3 linked regions of the Homo sapiens genome follow. The protein of the gene in region 1 interacts with the protein of each later gene in a pairwise test. Each region holds a gene or a part of one and is shown on either strand. Other genes may lie near its edges.

Region 1 (3,500 bases):
CACGGAGTCTCGCTCTGTCACCCAAGCTGGAATGCAAGCTGGTGTGATCTCGGCTCACGGCCACCTCTGCCTCCCAGGTTCAAGCGATTCTCCTGCTTCAGCCTCCTGAGTAGCTGGGACTACAGGCACGTGCCACCATGCCCGGCTAATTTTTGTATTTTTAGTAGAGAAGGGGGTTTCACCATGTTGGCCAGGCTGGTCTCAAATTCCTGACCTCAGGTGATCCACCCACCTCAGCCTCCCAAAGTGCTGGGATTACAGGCGTGCACCCCTGGCGCCTGGCCAAGAACTTGTTCTCTTTCAAGAGCTACTAATTTATGGTTTAGCTACATAATCAGAGGCCGTAACTTATAACTCTCACAATGCCTAGCACAGTGCCCTTTACACAGTAGGAAGCAAATGGGAAACAAAGTCATAACCAAATACTAAAAAATTCCCAAATGTTATACAATAAAATGATGCCTAAAAATAGCTGGCACTTACTTAGACATACCCAGGAAAGTACCTCAATTTCCATTTGTTATTGGGAGTAACAATCTCTGCCTTAATGGGTACTGTCAGAAATAACTGTAATATTAATGCAAGATGGCAGGGGCATTGGGAAACATCATAAATGACTCATATAAATAAACATTAGAAACTCAAAAATCTTGCTCACTCATTCAAACAGTGACTGAGTAGCTCTTCTATGCCAGACACCACACTAGGCTCACATGGTACAACCCCTTCCTTTGACAGGATGAGGAAGGAATCCAAGACCCAAAAGAGTAAAGTTACTTACCCAAGTTACCCACATAATTCAATGGCAGAACTGGACTAAAGCCTACAACTAATTCACATTTCTCTGCAACAAACCACACTAATACCTCTTGATACTTTTAATGTTTTCAAGTAACCCACATTGTATTTGAATGGAAACTGAAATTCATATTACAACTACCTACCTGGAGATACATAATGTTCTAACAAATTCATGAAATAAAGATTTAGACTCATAGAAAAATTATGAACAAAAAGCTAAAGACTAACAGTGGTAAACACAAGGCCTAGATGTAAGTATTACTTTATTCCTATAGTACTTTGACATATATTGTTATAACGAAAAAATTAGTTACACAAAAATAACAGGGTCATACAATTTAGCATCTTCCTTAAGGCCTTATTCCCTCTATATAACTTTCTGGAACCCTGTTAACTGCCATCTTCTCCCCAGTTGGTCACTATATGCTAGGTGTGGCACAATTTTGAACCAGCTTGCTTACCTGCAGATACCAGGACAACAGCTGTAAACAAACTCATCTCTTCATCACTAAGTTGGAGGGCATTTAGCTTCTCACTAAATTCAAACATAGAGTTTAGCAGATCCCCTGCTCCCATTGAGTGTAAATCATCCACACTATATTTCTTTCCACTTAAAAAGGTGACAGTACGTTCCTTTGCATCAAATAATGATGCGAACCGTACCATTAAAACCTGGAAAAAGAAAAAGAAATGTATTTGGAGAAGTCTAACAGCAATAATAAAAAAATAACTTAGTATTCAATCAAGTCAGTTATGAATCATCCCACATATAAAAGAAAGTTATAAAAGAAAAACAGGGTATACTTTTACTCAAAACCACTCTATTCTATTCTATTCTATATTCTATATTCTATTCTATTCTATTTTTGACATGGAGTTTCGTTCTTGTGGCCCGAGCTGGAGTGCAATGGCATGATCTTGGCTCACTGCAACCTCCGCCTCCCGGGTTCAAGCATTTCTCCTGCCTCGGCCTCCCAAGTAGCTGGGATTACAGGTGTGCGCCACCACGCCCAACTAATTTTTGCTATTTTTAGTAGAAGCAGGGTTTCACCATGTTAGCAAGGCTGGTCTCAAACTCCTGACCTCAGGTGATCCACCCGCTTCAGCCTCCCAAAGTGCTGGGATTACAGGTGTGAGCCACCATGCCAGATTTTATTTTTTGAGATGGAGTTTTCTTCTTGTCACCCAGGCTGGAGTGCAGTGGCACGATCTCAGCTCACTGCAACCTCTGCCTCCTGGGTTCAAGCGATTCTCCTGCCTCAGCCTCCCAACTAGCTGGGATTACAGGCACACGCCACCACGCCCAGCTGATTTTATTTTTAGTAGAGATGGGGTTTCACCATGTTGACCAGGCTGGTCTCAAACTCGTGACCTTAGGTGATCCACCCATCTCGGCTTCCCAAAGTGCTAGAATTACAGGCATGAGCCACAGCGCCCGGCCTATTTATTTATTTATTTATTGAGACAGGGTCTTGCTCTGTTGCCCAGGCCGGAGATGCAATCACAGCTCACTGCAACCTGAACCTCCCCGGCTCAAGTGATCCTTTCCACCTCAGCCTCCTGAATAGCTGAGAATACAAATACATACCACCACACCCAGCTAATTTTTGTATTTTTTGTAGAGACAGGGTTTCACCATGTTGCCTAGGCTGGTCTCGAACTCCTGGACTCAAGTGATCGGCCTGCCTCGGCCTCCCAAAGTGCTGGGATTACAAGCATGAGCCACTGCACCCGGTCCCAAAACCACTTTCTTAAGACAGATTCTCTACCAAAGCAATAAATACTCCAAGAAGAACATCAAAAGAAATTCTAGCCACTCATGGCAAAGATACTCTGCCACTCTATTAACAAAGATTCTGAAATGCAATATAAAATTAGAGCAAGAAATAGTGCCAGTAAATTTAAAACTGGGCCCTGGCCAAAGGCATTAAAGAATCTCTTTAGGCTGCCAAGTATAACACATGGCCTCTATGCCTTAAGTAAAAAGAGCAAAATTCCAATGCAGCAACACTTCGAAACATCAACACATCAAATGCAGCCAAGGCAAAGGAAGCAGATGAAGTCTAACTGAACTGCTTCAAGAAACCAACACCCAAAGAGACTATCCACAAAGAAAGCTATCACAGTAAGTGTTCTAAGCACCATGTTATAATTGACATCCAAGTTAAATCGGTTAACAATTATATTACTTAGTTATCTCACTCCCTCCGTTATAATAAATCCAGGGAGAAGTGAAAATATAGCCCTGGCTCACTTCTTCCATCCATAAAAGGTTCAAAGATTTGGCCCACCAAACATCAACTTCCTCTCACCACCCCAATCTCAGAGTTGTCCTTAATTAGGTCCCAAGGCATCTCACACCTTGGCAGCAAAAGGGATGCCCTGGGGCAGACAGAAGGTGAAAGACACCTAACTAAGGACCAGGAGAGGCACATCTGTTAAGTTATACAGTAGAGACTACCCCAAGCCCAAGCAGGATACAGTGTTGCAAGAGAAGCGGGACAGAAAAGTAGCCAAGGATCCTGAAGCAAGGTGAAACCAGGAAGAGCTAAGGTGGCACATAAGAAATGTCTGATATATCCCCAAAATATTCTACAGTCTCTCGAAAAACGAAATCACATTCTATTTGCCCTTCTTATTCTGTATCGAATACAGTAAATGCTAGGCTAGGCTTTCAGGAGGTGTCTAACACTGCAGAA
Region 2 (3,500 bases), on another chromosome or scaffold:
CACTGACCCATCCCTTGTCTGGGCTTCCAGGTAGAACTAGAGTTTCATTCAACCTACATGTGCCTATAGGTCCTCACTGCGGCAACGACATCTCTCAGCTCAGTAATGGCCACTTGGAGCAGGAATATGATCTTTATATGGAAGACTCAGTGGATGCTTATCACCTTCATAGAAAGGTACTCACCTCCCACGTCAAGAGAAAAGCCAACATGTTTTTCCTCCAATGCATAAAAGGAACTTCCATAGGGCTGGCAGGAGTCAGGCTGTTCAAGACAACTGGAAGGAGTTGAATAACATCTATCCAGTGAGTCCTGCAAGACTTCAGGCTCTACTACCTCCAGCAGCTCCCTGCTGAGCCTGGAAAAGGAGGAAAAAGTAAAGAATAAGCCAGGGGAAATCACACACAACAGAGCCCCAACTAGGTTTCATGGGTAGCATAGGGAAGTGGTTAAGAAACTAAAAGGATAGATCCATTAATGAGGTAACAAATTATTGCCTTCATGTTGGGACAGAACAGGGCCAAATGGAAAAGAATGAAAGAGAAAGACAGACACACACACACACACACACACACACACACACACACACACACACACACAGAGAGAGAGAGAGAACGAGCTCAGTGAATTGTCCAGGTGACACACTGATGAGGGAGTAACAGGACACTCTGAGTTAGTGCCCTCAGGACACACAGCATACAGTGATCATGAAAAGACTGTGCTCAATAATTTTCCATAAAATGTGCTCAAGTTTCCATGCAGTCGCCATGAGAATACAGTTTTTGAAGTCTGGTCCACCTACAGTAGGTTAGTAAATGATAAGGGGAGGAAGAAATGGAAACCTAAATATCTACTGCAATGAAAACCAACAGCAATGTTAGTAGGAATAATTCAGGCTTGCTTGAAAAGATGTAATCGATAATGTCAGCCCGCTCTGTTTTCCCTGAACCAGGAGTCTCCAGATGTCAACACAGAAGTAGCTGTTCACAATTGCTCAGTTACCTGGGGCATGGTGGGCCTTGGTCTTCTTCCTCTTCTTGGTCCTTTTTAATTCCTGCAATACATTCAGACAGGGACAGACAAAATAAGCCAATTCACCTACACCCATAACAGTCCACTGTCTAATCCCCACACAGGGATCTCAGGCTCCTCAGCATGAGAACAGGACAATGTGAGAGATATACTTCAGGAGGCCTGAAAGCTGGTCATGATATTCTTTGGTTTGCATCTCAGAACCAAGGGTGAAATATCCCCATTCTGGTAGATCGTTATCCCAAAATCACTTATCCCAAGTTTGTGCAAACAGTTATGCCTTATTGTTCCCATCAGTTCAAAGAAAATGCCCCAGATGATTTCTAGGAGGAAAACTGCAGTATTCAGCCCTGTCTCATCAAATGCCCAGCTCGTTCATGGATGCAAGAATTTTAGACACTGAAATTAGAATGAAGGAGGAAATCCACAAACCCTTGAGTCCAAATCATAGTTCTGTGAATTTTTTACATCTGCCTGGGTCCAATGTGCTGAGAGCGGGCTCAGGTTGCCACAGGCATGGCTGGAGACTAGGAATAGAGCCTTGCTCACTGACCCATTTCATGTCTAGGCTTCCAACTGAGACTACAGTTTCATTACAACCTATATGCGCCCATAGGTCCTGCCTGCGGCAATGACATCTCTCGGGTCAGTAAGGGCCACTTGGAACAGGAATATCACCCCTATCTGGAAGACCAGGTGGAGGCTTATCACCTTCATAGTAAGGTACTCACTGTCCACGTCAAGAGCCAAGCCAAGGTACTGTTCCTCCAATGAGTAAACAGCACTGCTGTAGGGCTGGCCTAAGTCAGGCAGTTCAAGATAACCTGAAGGAGTCGAATAACATCTATCCAGTGAGTCCTGCAAGACTTCAGGCTCTTTCTCATCCAGCAGCTCCCTGCTGAGCCTGGAAAAGTAGGAAAAAGTAAAGAATAAGCCAGGGGGAATCAGAAACCACACAGCCCCAGCTAGATTTCATGGCTAACATAAGGAACTGTTTAAAAAGAAAAAGGACAGATCCATTAATGAGGTAATGAATTATTGCCTTTATGTTGGGATAGACCAGGGCCAGGTAGAAAAGAATGAAAGAGAAAGACAGGGAGAGGGAGAGAGAGAGAGAGAGAGAGGAGAAAGTGAGCTCAGCGAGTTGGCCGGGTGACACACTGATGAAGGGGTCAAAGGACACTCTGAGTTAGTGCCCTCGGGACACACAGCGAACAGTGATCATGAAAAGAGTGGGCTCAATAATTTTCCATAAACTTGCTCAAGATTCCATGCAGTTGCCATACAGCCTTTGAGGTATGGTCAACCTATAGTAAGTTAGTAAATGTTAAGGGGAGGAAGAAATGGAAACCTAAACATCTACTGCAATGAAAACCAACAGCCATGTCAGTAGGAGTAATTCAACCTTCGTTGAAAACATGAAATTGAACACACTCTTGTTTTCCCTGGACCTGGCATCTCCAGGTGTCAACACAGAATTAAGCATCCATAATTGCTCAAAGTTACCTGGGGCATGATGGGTCTTGGTCTTCTTCCACTTCTTGGTACTTTTCAATTTCTGCAATAAGTTCAGACATGGACAGACATATGAAGCTGGTTCTCCTACACACATAACAATCCACTGTCTAATCCTCACACAGGAACTTCAGGCTCCTCAGCATGAGAATAGGACACTGTGAGAGATATTCTTCAGGAGGCCTGAAGGCTGATCACCATAGAGATTCCTTGGTTTTTGTCCCAGAAACTGTGGGTAAAATTCCCTATTCTGGTAGATCGTTATCCCAATATCATTTGTCCCAAGTTTGTGCAAATGGTTATGCCATATTTTTCCAATCGATTTAAAGCAAATACCCCCAAATGGTTGCTAGGAGAAAAACTGCACTATTCAGCCCTGTCTCATCAAATACTCAGATTGTTCATGGTAGCGAGGATTTTAGACGCTGAAATTAGAGTGAAGGATGAAATCTACAAGATCTACAAAATTGAGACAAAATCAGAGTTGTGTGAATTTGTCACATCTGCCCAGGTCCAATGTCATGAGAGTAGGATTAGGGCGCCACAGGCATGGCCTGAGACTAGGGAGAGAGCCTTGCTCACTGACCCATCCCTTGTCTGGGCTGCCAAGTGGAACTAGAGTTTCATTCAACCTACATGTGCCTATAGGTCCTCCCTGTGGCAATGACATCTCTCAGCTCAGTAAGGGCCACTTGCAGTAGGAATATGACCCTAACCAGAAGACTCAGTGGATCCTTATCACCTTCATAGAAAGGTACTCACCATCCATGTCAACAGCCAAGCCAACACACTGTTGCTCCAATATGTAAAAGGCACTTCTGTAGGGCTGGCATGAGTCAGTCAGTTCAAGACAACCTGAAGGAGTTGAATAACATCTATCCAGTGAGTCCTGCAAGACTTCAGGCCCTTTCTCATCCAGCAGCTCCCTGCTGAGCCTGGAAAAGTGGGAAAAAG
Region 3 (3,500 bases), on another chromosome or scaffold:
GAGAATCTTGATTTCATCTCTTCCTTGTTAGGAAAGAACTCATACACATCCCTCTTGTTTCTACCTGGCTGTCTCTTTTTAACATTCTCATTCCTCCCCTGGTTTGACAGGAGAAGCTGGGCCTGTGTAGGTCAGAGTCTTCCTTTTTCCTTCTCTTTCTGAGGAGCTGCCAGCACATTTTCCCTTCCTCCTTCATGCGCTAAGTCCTATGGGGCAGGCACCCCACGCTGGAAGGCCTCCAGGTGGGCCCTCCTGTAACTGGCAGGTAAGGCACTGTGATGCAGGCTACACTTCCAGCTAGCACTTGAACTTTCCTACAAACAGCCACCTTCTCCTCCAGCACCTTTATTAATTCTTAGGATGACGTTTTGGCTCCACCTGCTGTCTTATTTCTCAATCTGTGTAGAATTTCAGTAGCAAAGATGGGTATTGTTTATTGGACCCAAGCTTCTTTCTGAGAAGATTACCTGTCATGCCTCACAAAAGAGTTCATATTTTAAAAGTATTTTCAGGCAAAAGCTTCAGTAATCATTATAAAGTCAATCAACTTTAAGGATTCTTGCAAATATAACGGCAATGAAAAATGAAAAGGAAAATTTAACTTCAGTATTAAGAAGACTTTTCTATTTAACTCTTACCTGTATGGCAACCATCTGCACGTGTGGAATGTTTGTTACTGCACTGGTGCTTTCTGGAATTACTTCACATTTGTTGTTAGAATTTCCACAGTGCTCATCATTTCTGTTAGACTCACTCAGGACTGTATGAGCATCACCTGTGCTGCAGTGTGACTTTACAGATATTCCCAAAGAGCCCTCAAGGATCTGTGTTTCAGAGGCAATCTGGTGACCAGCAACATTCTCAGCATTCAAATGATGACCCTCAAAATAGGCAGCAGCATTTTTATCTGCTCTGTCATTGGCTACAAAAGACGGCACCACTGGTACTGATCTTGGTAGCTGATATTCAGGAGAAAGGCTGGCCAAGGGTGTATATATGCTGGTGTACTGGGGCAAACCTGGTAACACGTTTATGTATGCTGGCGGTGTCTGGGTGATATCAAATCTCTGGAAAGGAAGATACGTACAGTATCCTGTGACCAAATGGGATTGAGCCCAATAAGTTGGTTTCACATCCTCAAGAACCGGTTTGGGGGAATTACAGGAGACTCGCTTGTAATTTGCATCCTCAGAGCCTGGTTTAGGAGAATTAGAAGAGACCCCTTTGGGTTGCCCATCCTCAGAAACTTGTCTAGAAGAATTGTCGGATACTGGTTTGGCCTTCACATCTTCACAAGCTGGCTTGGGAGAATTTGCAGACACAGGTTTGGGTTTCACATTTTCAAAAGCTGGTGCTGAAGATGAATCTGACACTGGTTTAGACTTTACATCTGGTTTAAATTCCCTAGCAGCTGGATTCAGTTGTAGTTTAACTCGTACATACTCCCCTGCTTTTGAAATTTCTTCTACTTTTGTTTTAATGTTTTTCTTCTTCCTTTTTTTCTTGAGCCGTGATGCAACCTTCTTCAGTGCAATACAGTTGTCAATCACAACAAAACGAGGGCATCCCAAGAGAAAAGGTTTTAAACCTCCTGCTTTTTCTAGTATCTGTCGAGTTTCTTCTGGGAAAAACTCATATTCTGCAGAGAACATCTTGTTACTCATGTCCAAGGGACCATGTTCCTCCAAAAACTGAGAGAAGTAACTTGGAAAAAATTTACATTTACATGAGTTACTATAAGGAAGTACTTGAATATGTCTATTTGAAAAAAACTTTTATTCTCCCAAAGGAAAACACTGTTTCACTTTTCACTGATCTCAACCTTTCCTCAACAACAAATATAACAAACATAAGGTTAACTGCAATCAATGATACTATAAAGAAAATTTTGTCTACCTCCTAGAAAATGATCATTTAAAACTTTTCTGGGAGCAGGGGAAAGCAAAAGGAAATCAAAAAGTTATTTCATAACTTTCAACTATGTAATTACATAATTTATTCTAAAAACAACAACAAAAAATTTATTCAGGAAAGATAATAATGCCAATAAGAATTTTAAATAAAAAGAGAAAATCAAATCTCAAAAACAAATCCTATTTGAATTTGCGTACAGTAAATACTGAAAACTACATACTTTAGCTTTACTTTTGGATGCCTGAAGCAAATTCTAGCATACTTTAAGAAATAATAGTATAATTTTACAGTTGTTTCCACACTGTCACCCAAGAGTTCTCTGGAAATATGATTTGCTCAGCATTTCAACTCTAAAGAAAAACCATGAAGAAGGATCTAAGAGCACAGAACTAAATAGGAATGATGCAATACAGGAAAACAGAAGAAAGGGCCATATGGTGGATATGCTACTGACAGGACTTCCAGGAGAAGAGTTGGCTTTTAAATTAATACTCTATTACAGACCTCAGCCCTTGATTTATTTTCTTAAAAGGAAGGCCTCATGCACTATCTAATAACACAAAGCTCAAAATGGTAAGCTATCTGAGATTTTCCTGAATTTTTTACTTGTTTTATCCACCCCACTCAGTATCGACTTAGTAGCTCAAACTGACAAAATCAATAATCATTAGGACTCTAAATTTAATAATTAAAAATCCTCAGGGCGGGGCGAGGTGGCTCATGCCTGTAATCTCACCATTTTGGAAGGCTGAGGCAGGCAGATCACTTGAGGCCAGGAGTTGGAGACCTGCCTGGCCAACATGGTGAAACCCTTCTCTACTAAAAATACAAAAATTAGCCAGGCATGGTGGTGCAAGCCTGTAATCCCAGCTACTCGGGAGGCTGACGCATGACAATCACCTGAACCTGGGAGGCAGAGGTTGTAGTGAGCAGAGATTGCACCACTGCACTCCAGCCTGTGTGACACAGCAAGACTCTGTCTCAAAAAAAAAAAAAAAATCCTAAATTAACTTTGTGTAAAATGTGGCAAAATCTCTAAAAACAGGCACAAATTAAACAACTTCTGATCTTTAATTGGCAGCCTTAGTATAAAATAATGGTTGTAAAAATTTCAACCCACTTACTCATATAGAGTTGAACATTTTTGTTTTGGGTTCATGTCCCATAGCTTCTTATTGCGGACAACATATTCGTTACTGTGTTGGTCATAGAGAGCTTCGAATTCTTCTACATCTTGCCGAAGATGGTCAGGCACTGCAAATGGGCCTGCAGAATCTGAATTTCGATTGCTGGTAAATAACAACAAAAAACACCCAATTTTGTGGATGATAGACCTTTGGTTTATTATTTAACCAGAAGAATGTCTAATTGAAATAAACACAATAATGGCAATATATTACTCAGCTCTATGTTGCAAAAAAATAGCACCAGGGAACTTAGTGTAGAAAAGTTACCCTTCCACAGTTATAGGCGAGAAATATCATATCTGACAATCTAAGTAAGCACTTTCAATTATTTAGTCTTGCTCCAAAGAGCAAAATTCTTAAAACTCCATATTTTTAAAAAAAGTTGCATTAATTATAACT

What was found. The genes of interacting proteins can lie anywhere in the genome.
Region 2: the proteins of NR1D2 (region 1) and NBPF19 interact in a two-hybrid assay, tested with the Homo sapiens proteins (one large-scale study listed by BioGRID).
Region 3: the proteins of NR1D2 (region 1) and TTC3 interact in a two-hybrid assay, tested with the Homo sapiens proteins (one large-scale study listed by BioGRID and IntAct).

The regions. Positions count from the first base shown.
Region 1 is NC_000003.12:23,965,786-23,969,285, reverse strand, and holds part of NR1D2 (nuclear receptor subfamily 1 group D member 2), read right to left. Parts: intron 1,474-3,500; coding exon 1,263-1,473; intron 1-1,262. UniProt on the Homo sapiens protein: Transcriptional repressor which coordinates circadian rhythm and metabolic pathways in a heme-dependent manner.
Region 2 is NC_000001.11:149,516,545-149,520,044, reverse strand, and holds part of NBPF19 (NBPF family member NBPF19), read right to left. Parts: intron 3,482-3,500; coding exon 3,309-3,481; intron 2,590-3,308; coding exon 2,538-2,589; intron 1,936-2,537; coding exon 1,763-1,935; intron 1,054-1,762; coding exon 1,002-1,053; intron 358-1,001; coding exon 185-357; intron 1-184.
Region 3 is NC_000021.9:37,163,754-37,167,253, reverse strand, and holds part of TTC3 (E3 ubiquitin-protein ligase TTC3), read right to left. Parts: intron 3,204-3,500; coding exon 3,039-3,203; intron 1,705-3,038; coding exon 639-1,704; intron 1-638. UniProt on the Homo sapiens protein: E3 ubiquitin-protein ligase which catalyzes the formation of 'Lys-48'-polyubiquitin chains. Mediates the ubiquitination and subsequent degradation of phosphorylated Akt (AKT1, AKT2 and AKT3) in the nucleus.